2 linked regions of the Homo sapiens genome follow. The protein of the gene in region 2 purifies or fractionates together with the protein of the main gene of each other region. This does not show direct contact. Each region holds a gene or a part of one and is shown on either strand. Other genes may lie near its edges.

Region 1 (3,500 bases), on a different chromosome or scaffold from region 2:
CTTGGAGAGTATGACCAAGAGCAATATGGTGCAATTCATTTCCAAATTACATGTTTTAATCTACCTTTTGACTACATCCACCCAATCTGGGTCTTTTCTGCTTAAGACATTATTATTTAGAAATCTAGACATGAGATTCATTATGAAAAAGGTAAAAATATCTATCAAGGACAAAATCAACCCTGTATCAACTGATGTTTCATGGTCCACATGAAATTACATTTAGACCAGGAGCCATCCCTCCAAGGAGAAAGGTGACACCACTAATCAAATGCCACTGACAGGACAGAGCAGAATGAGTATGCGTTTCCAACTCACTAAATAACGCAGATGTCCTAGCGCTTTGGGAAGCCCAGACAGGAGGATTGCTTGAGGCTAGAAGTTTGAAACCAGCCTGGGCAACATAGTGAGACCCCATCTCTAGAAAAATGAAAAAAATTAGCTGGATGTTGTGGTGCATGCCTGTAGTCCTAGCTACTTGGGAAGCTGAGGCAAGAGGATTCTTTGAGCCCAGGAGTTTGAGGCTGCAGTGAGCCATGATTGCACCATTATACTCCAGCCTGGGTGACAGAGCAAGACCCTGTCTCTTAAAAAAAAAAAAAAATGATGAGAACGATGCAGGATGATCATGCCAATGTTTGTCATTGTTATTACAGAATTTTTAAGCTGATGGGAACACTAGAGACAATCTCTTCCAAGCCCCTCAATTTACAAATGTGGAAACTGAGTTCCTTAGAGATGGGGCAGTTCATGCCAGCCCATTCATTCAGAAAGGAGATTCCAAAGAAGAACCCATTTTCTGACGCTCTTCTCCATTTACCTCACAGCCAACCTTCAAAAATCACATCTTAACTTTCCTGTTTGACAAAAATAATGTTTTTTGTTTTCATGTTTAAAAGGAAAAAGAAATTACCACTTTCAGTGTTAGGTTCATGAGTTTCACTTACTCTTCGTGGGTGGGCATTTTCCTCTCCACTGTCTTTACGGATTCTTGATATATGTAGGCCGAAGTTGGCACTTTCCAGGCGAGTGTTATCAACTACCTCCTGAAGAAAGAGAGACAAGGACACATCGGCTGTGAGCAGCCATGGAGAGTTGCTGGATGTACCTGCCTACTCCATCAAGCAAAGTCCGATGCTGGATAGCAATTCTGTGAACGCGACATGCACATGTAGCTTAGCCACATTTGTGCAGACCCAGGAAGATGAAGTAGCTGTCTGCCTGCACTATGTGGAAAGAGTTGTCCCTGGAAGACTGAGAAGATGCCAGGCCCCATGGGCCCCAAGCAGCTTTTCCAATGTGCTTCAAACAGTTGTGCCTCAACCCATCCCCATTCGCTGGCTCGTCTTTTCTCCTGTGATCAGGGGTGTTTTTGGCCAGGAGTGGCTGAGTTTGGAGATATGGCAGAGTCAACTAGCCTCCCATGGGACTCATCCTGCCCCACCTTCACCTCTCTTCCACATGAGTCAGGCTGCAGCGGCCAGAACCGTAGGACCTCCTTGAGGGGGAGAGAATCCTTTTGACCAATCGGATATTGTGATTATACCTTTCCGTTATTTGACATTAATTTTTTTAATTCCTTTTCTCAGTTTCCATTGGTCCTCTTTCCTTTGAAACCTGGGATGTTTAGTCCTAACTAAGAAGGTTCTGGACATGAGCCTCCTGAGTCAGGAGCCATTGACTTCTCTCACCTGCTGGATTCTCTCCTTGCTGCCCTTCTTGGCCCCCAGGAAGTCCAGCATGAAGGTCTGGGGTGAGGGCTGACCATGTGCGATTTGGAGGAGCCCAACAGGAGACCTTGAGACCCAGCCATACCTGAAATGTAGTGTAGGCTATGCCTGGCCTACACTTAGGAACCTAGCAATGTGCTCTGGGATGGGAAGACCTGCCATCTTGGTTAGCTCAGTTACCTCAGGTAATAGTTACCTCAGATGGGAGGATCAAGGCAACCAGGCCTTCCCGCTCTGACTGGGCCCTGGCCCCACCCTGGCCAATCACCCAGCACCCAGACCAGGGGAAAAACTTGGAGGAGAAAAAAGTCCTCCCACTCAAGTTAAGAAACATTAGGAAATCTAGGGATATGTCCATGGTTTTAGTCCAGTGTACTGGAAGAAAACCTAAAATTCAATTAGATCACACAGCAATTTTAAAAGCGTAGGTCCTCAAAAAATAAATAAATGTGACCTTTTTCATAGGGCTATTTTTCAGCCAAGTGTGCTGTTCACAAAGTCAAGCCAAGCCATCCTGACCTGATTAGGATGCTCCTTATTGAGCGATTTGGTGTCCCCTGTCTTCCCCGCTGTGGTTTTGGACCGGGGCCTCTGCTGATTGATCTTGGGAAGATTTTGACAACTGTCGTTCATCATCCTAAGGGAGGGAACAAAGACCTTGGAAGAAATTATTCTAGCCACTTAATTTGAGGTAGTTAAACAACTATTCTTAAGAATAGCACATTTAAGAAAGCTATTGAAAGATATGCAGGTGGCAACTATAGGGCCCTTCCACCTATGTGATCCACCCACCAGGTCCATCCTGGCCCTAACACCCTCCAGGCTACTCACTGGGTTCTTCTAAGATTGCCTCCTCGAGCCCCCCAACTCACCCTCTTCATTTCCCTTTCACACCACATAGCTTCGGCCCTTCTGCAAATAGCTTTAGTTCTTAAGAATACATTACTTTACAAGCATTCTTCCATTGTTCCTTCCACCTTCCTTAAAAGGAGCATTAGACCAGGAGAAAGGTGTGAGAGAGAAAGGAGTCCTCCCATTCAAACTAAGAAACAGTAGGAAATCCAGGGATTGGCCCCATGGTTTTAATCCAGTGTCCTGGATATACCCTGCCTACTTAAAATACCTCTCAGCATGTTATGAGTAATAAACATCAAAAGGGGATTGCAGAAGGAAAACAAACTTCCCTTCATCAATGTTGTCCCAGACCAATCATATTTGCCAAACAAATTTTCATCAACAATTGTTTACTTCAGACAAAACAAACTGATGGGGCTGGAAGTCAGAAGAGTAGCTAACTCTGATGGAGATGGGGAGAATTTGACTGAGAAGGGGCAAAGGTAGCTTGCCGGTGGCTGTAACTGTGGTTACAAGAGTATATACATTTACTGTATACATAGTTATATATGTGGTATGACTGTATATATGTTATATATCCATAGAAAGATCAAATCACTTTTTTCACTACATCCTCATAATTAGATATAAAATTCAGTATTGGAATATCCATATTTTTCTGTAGAAGATGCCATCCAGAGAGAGACAGGACTAGCTTGTGGGGGCAGAACATGAACTCCCACATTGTTGCTTAGTTCTCTTAGCACTTTTGTCCCCATATGTGAGATGCATTTGCAGAAGGTTCGTTAGAAGCAAGTCTCCCCATGTTCAGAGTGATCTCAGAGAGCTGCTATTTCAACTTCCTTTCTTTATGGGGATAATAAATGTTCATGTCTAATATAAATGCACAACTATTTGGCCAGCAAGACCACACAT
Region 2 (3,500 bases):
AAGACATTCAGAAACACTGCCTTATCCCAAACACCTTTATTGGCTTGGGTAATGTATTTTTCTAAAATAATGCCTTTTAGTGAAACAAGAATATAATCACCCAGATCTTAGTTTATAAGTACCACTTCTCCACTAAAAAGAATCAGGGGTCTTTGGAGATACCAGATACGGGACAGAGTAAATTAAGCCTAGGTCATTTGCTGGGGCACAGAGCAAGGAAATGCTCATGGAGTCACGGGGACGCAAGAAACAACTTCAAGTCTCCTGCTGACCAAATTTCAGATATTACGAACATCAGTGAGAAGAAAAAGAATGACTATAATTGACTATGTAATATTGAGTAAAAAACCCCCACAAGTTAACAGTGATAGTAACAAAAGAGAAAGGAAAAAAAAACCCATTTACCACCAATGGCATTGATTATTACCCCAACCCTTTACTCTGAAAACTGGCAGAGAGGAAAAACAAGGAATATATCCTGTTTTCCTAAAAGGAACGAGGCTGGGTGCAGTGGCTCACATCTGTAATCCTAGCACTTTGGGAGGCAGAGGTGGGTGGATCATCTGAGGTCAGGAGTTCGAGACCAGCCTGGCCAACATGGTGAAACCCCGTCTCTACTAAAAACAGAAAAATTAGCGGGGCATGGTGGCAGATGCCTATAATCCCAGCTACCTAGGAGGCTGAGGTGGGAGGATCGCTGGAACCCAGGAGGTAGAGGCTGCAGTGAGCCAAGATTGCACCACTGCACTCCAGCCTGGGTGACAGAGCAAGACTCTGCCTCAAAAGAAAAAAAGAACTAAATAGTTCATGCCCACTGATTAATTCATGCTTGTCAAAGCACTTACAGAGTTTTGTTTACTTTTTATAAATTTTTGACTTTGGCTTGTTATAAATACTAAGAATTAAGACAAAAATAATCAAAAGGCATCATGGATAATACATTGCCTGGCTTTTATCATGTCACTTTGTACCGAAGGAGTGACTGAAATACAACTTTTCCGTCTGAATTTTGTTGGATCAAATGTTACATGGTAGATGGCTCAACGTACAAGCAGGAAGGCTGACAAACTGAAAGGCCTAAGAAGTGAGTATCTGGTACTTATGCTTATACAGAATATACTTGTATGTACAACTATGTATTTCTGGGTTTACTTCTACTTCATTCTTCAGATAAAAATAACTAGGTAATTTTGACAATCATCCAAATAGCCATTTCAATAACTATAACAAGCTAATGTGGAGAACAAGTATTTTAAAAAATTTCTGCTTTAATTACATTTTTTTAAAAAAAATAAGCTTCAAATCACAAAAGCACACATTTTACTCCCATAAAAAATAGATCCTTATTATTTTATAATATTTTTTTCCTCTTTTCTTTTTTAAAATCACACCTGGATACTTTATAATCTTATGTAAATTTATTAACTTAACTGAAACTTATCTGTAAAATATTGACCATTTAAAATAAGCCAAATTCAGAGTGTGGGAAAGCCTAATGGACGAATAGTTTAGTTTTTTCCCCCAATAAATAAATAAAGGGTATTTTTTCAAAAGGCAGAATTATTAAAAGATTTTTCAAAACCAAAACCATTATAGTTTTCCAAACAACAAAATTTTTTTGACATCATTGAGGAAGGCTGAACAAATACTGGGTATTAAATAATATTGGAAACAATATTAGTATTATACTAAGAAAAAAGTCCTTATACATCAGAGATACATACTAAAGTATTTACAGGTGAAATGATATCTAGAATTATTTTAACATACTCCAGATATACTCCTGTACAAGTTTTTAATTGTACAAGAAAACTTGTACAATTAAGTTTAAGTGATAGTCATTCTGACCTCCACTGAATTATAATAGTAAAGAAGAATTATGACCTAGTTCCTCTTAATACTCAAACTCACCTCAAAAAGAGTTGGAGGAGGAGGTGGCAGACTTGTAATTTTGGCTGATCTCTCTTTTTCCACAAGCAGTGCTTCCTTTCGAGCTTTTATATGCCTTAAGAAACAAGAGATGTCATCAATTAATCTCTCAGTGATAATATTATAGTACAACAGGGTTAAAAATATGTAAGTCATAGGCTCAAGAAATCCTCTAGTCTGATTCCACAGGCTCAGTAAGCTTTACATGTGTAAAGAGTCTATACATATGTTAAGAAAATGTTTACAAATTGAGAGAGGCCTATCTAAAGACAGAAAGCTCTATGGTGGGGACCAACCCAAGAAACTTATAATGTTCTTTAGAGTGAAAAAAAAAAAAACAGAAATGTTGTTAAAAATGGCTGTTGCTAACTAGTAACAGGGCCCTTAATTTTTTACTTTGCTTCACTCACGTTTCCTGTGAATGGCCCTTTAATTTTTACAACATGCAAAAAATACTAATGACTTCCAGAGTCTACAACCTCTTTTAATGTTCTTAATCACATCAATTTTTATTTCATGTTTACATCGGAAACAGACATTGGTTGACATGCATTCTGAAGTAGCCATATATTTTTTCAGAAACTTAGTAACTGCTGCTAAACTCAACTCAAACTACAACTAGAAAAGAAAGCTCATTAGTTACTATGTTCACCTAAGCAAATCATTCCCTGTCCCCAACATTATTTTTAAATCAAGTTTAACAAATGCAATGAATATGCTACTATGTTTATTTAATATTTGCTTACACAGTATCCTATGTATCCTCTACTTTCAACCATGTTAGTTTCAGTTGAGATTATAGTAAAAATTATTACTTTACCAGGTTTTTTGTTTCAGTAATATTTCTTTTTGATTTTTCTGTACTTTCAAGGCTTCTTTATGCCTCAAATCTGCTTTTCTTTTCCTTTCTGCTGCCCGCTGTGCCAAAGCATCCAAATCAGGTTCCTAAAAATATATATTACTTAAAATGTCATGTTAAACAAGAATAATAGAAATGTGTCTCATATGATATCAGAAGTGATTTATCAATTTTGTCATCTTCTTTCTACATACTATAGCAGTGTTTCCCAGAGCATGACAACAGTACCACTGATGATATGCCATATTAGGGGGGACAAACACAAACATTTTAATGTAAAGTTAATGCAATCAATTAACATTATTACAAAAATATAAATAGGATATCGAACTACTTAGGACATGGTTAAAGTACGTAAAATATATAGTGATATGGGTAGTTTCCCAGTCAGGGCAAAAATTGTGAACATGGTATTCAAATAACAGAGGTTTGGGAAACATTGCATTAGGCACAAACTTAATGTGGCATGCATAAAACCACAAAAACCTGAGTCAGAACTTACGGCTATTACTAAAAACACAGACTAAAACCAAGGACCATGAAACAGATTGCCACAGTCTTAAGATATTTTCTTTCTCACTAGTTGTTATCAAAGATTTACCTTCTTTGTAACTAGCTTGTTTACTGTATGTGACTGATTCTGGGACTGTAGTATTTCCACATCATAAATCACAATAAATCAAAATAATGGGGCAGACTTACTGTGACTTTC

Evidence for each region.
Region 1: the proteins of CEP295 (region 2) and KATNAL2 purify together in Homo sapiens (tandem affinity purification; one large-scale study listed by IntAct). This does not show direct contact.

Annotation. Positions count from the first base shown.
Region 1 is NC_000018.10:47,057,102-47,060,601, reverse strand, and holds part of KATNAL2 (katanin p60 ATPase-containing subunit A-like 2), read right to left. Parts: intron 2,368-3,500; coding exon 2,250-2,367; intron 1,047-2,249; coding exon 948-1,046; intron 1-947.
Region 2 is NC_000011.10:93,668,182-93,671,681, reverse strand, and holds part of CEP295 (centrosomal protein of 295 kDa), read right to left. Parts: intron 2,875-3,500; coding exon 2,750-2,874; intron 2,006-2,749; coding exon 1,912-2,005; intron 1-1,911. UniProt on the Homo sapiens protein: Centriole-enriched microtubule-binding protein involved in centriole biogenesis.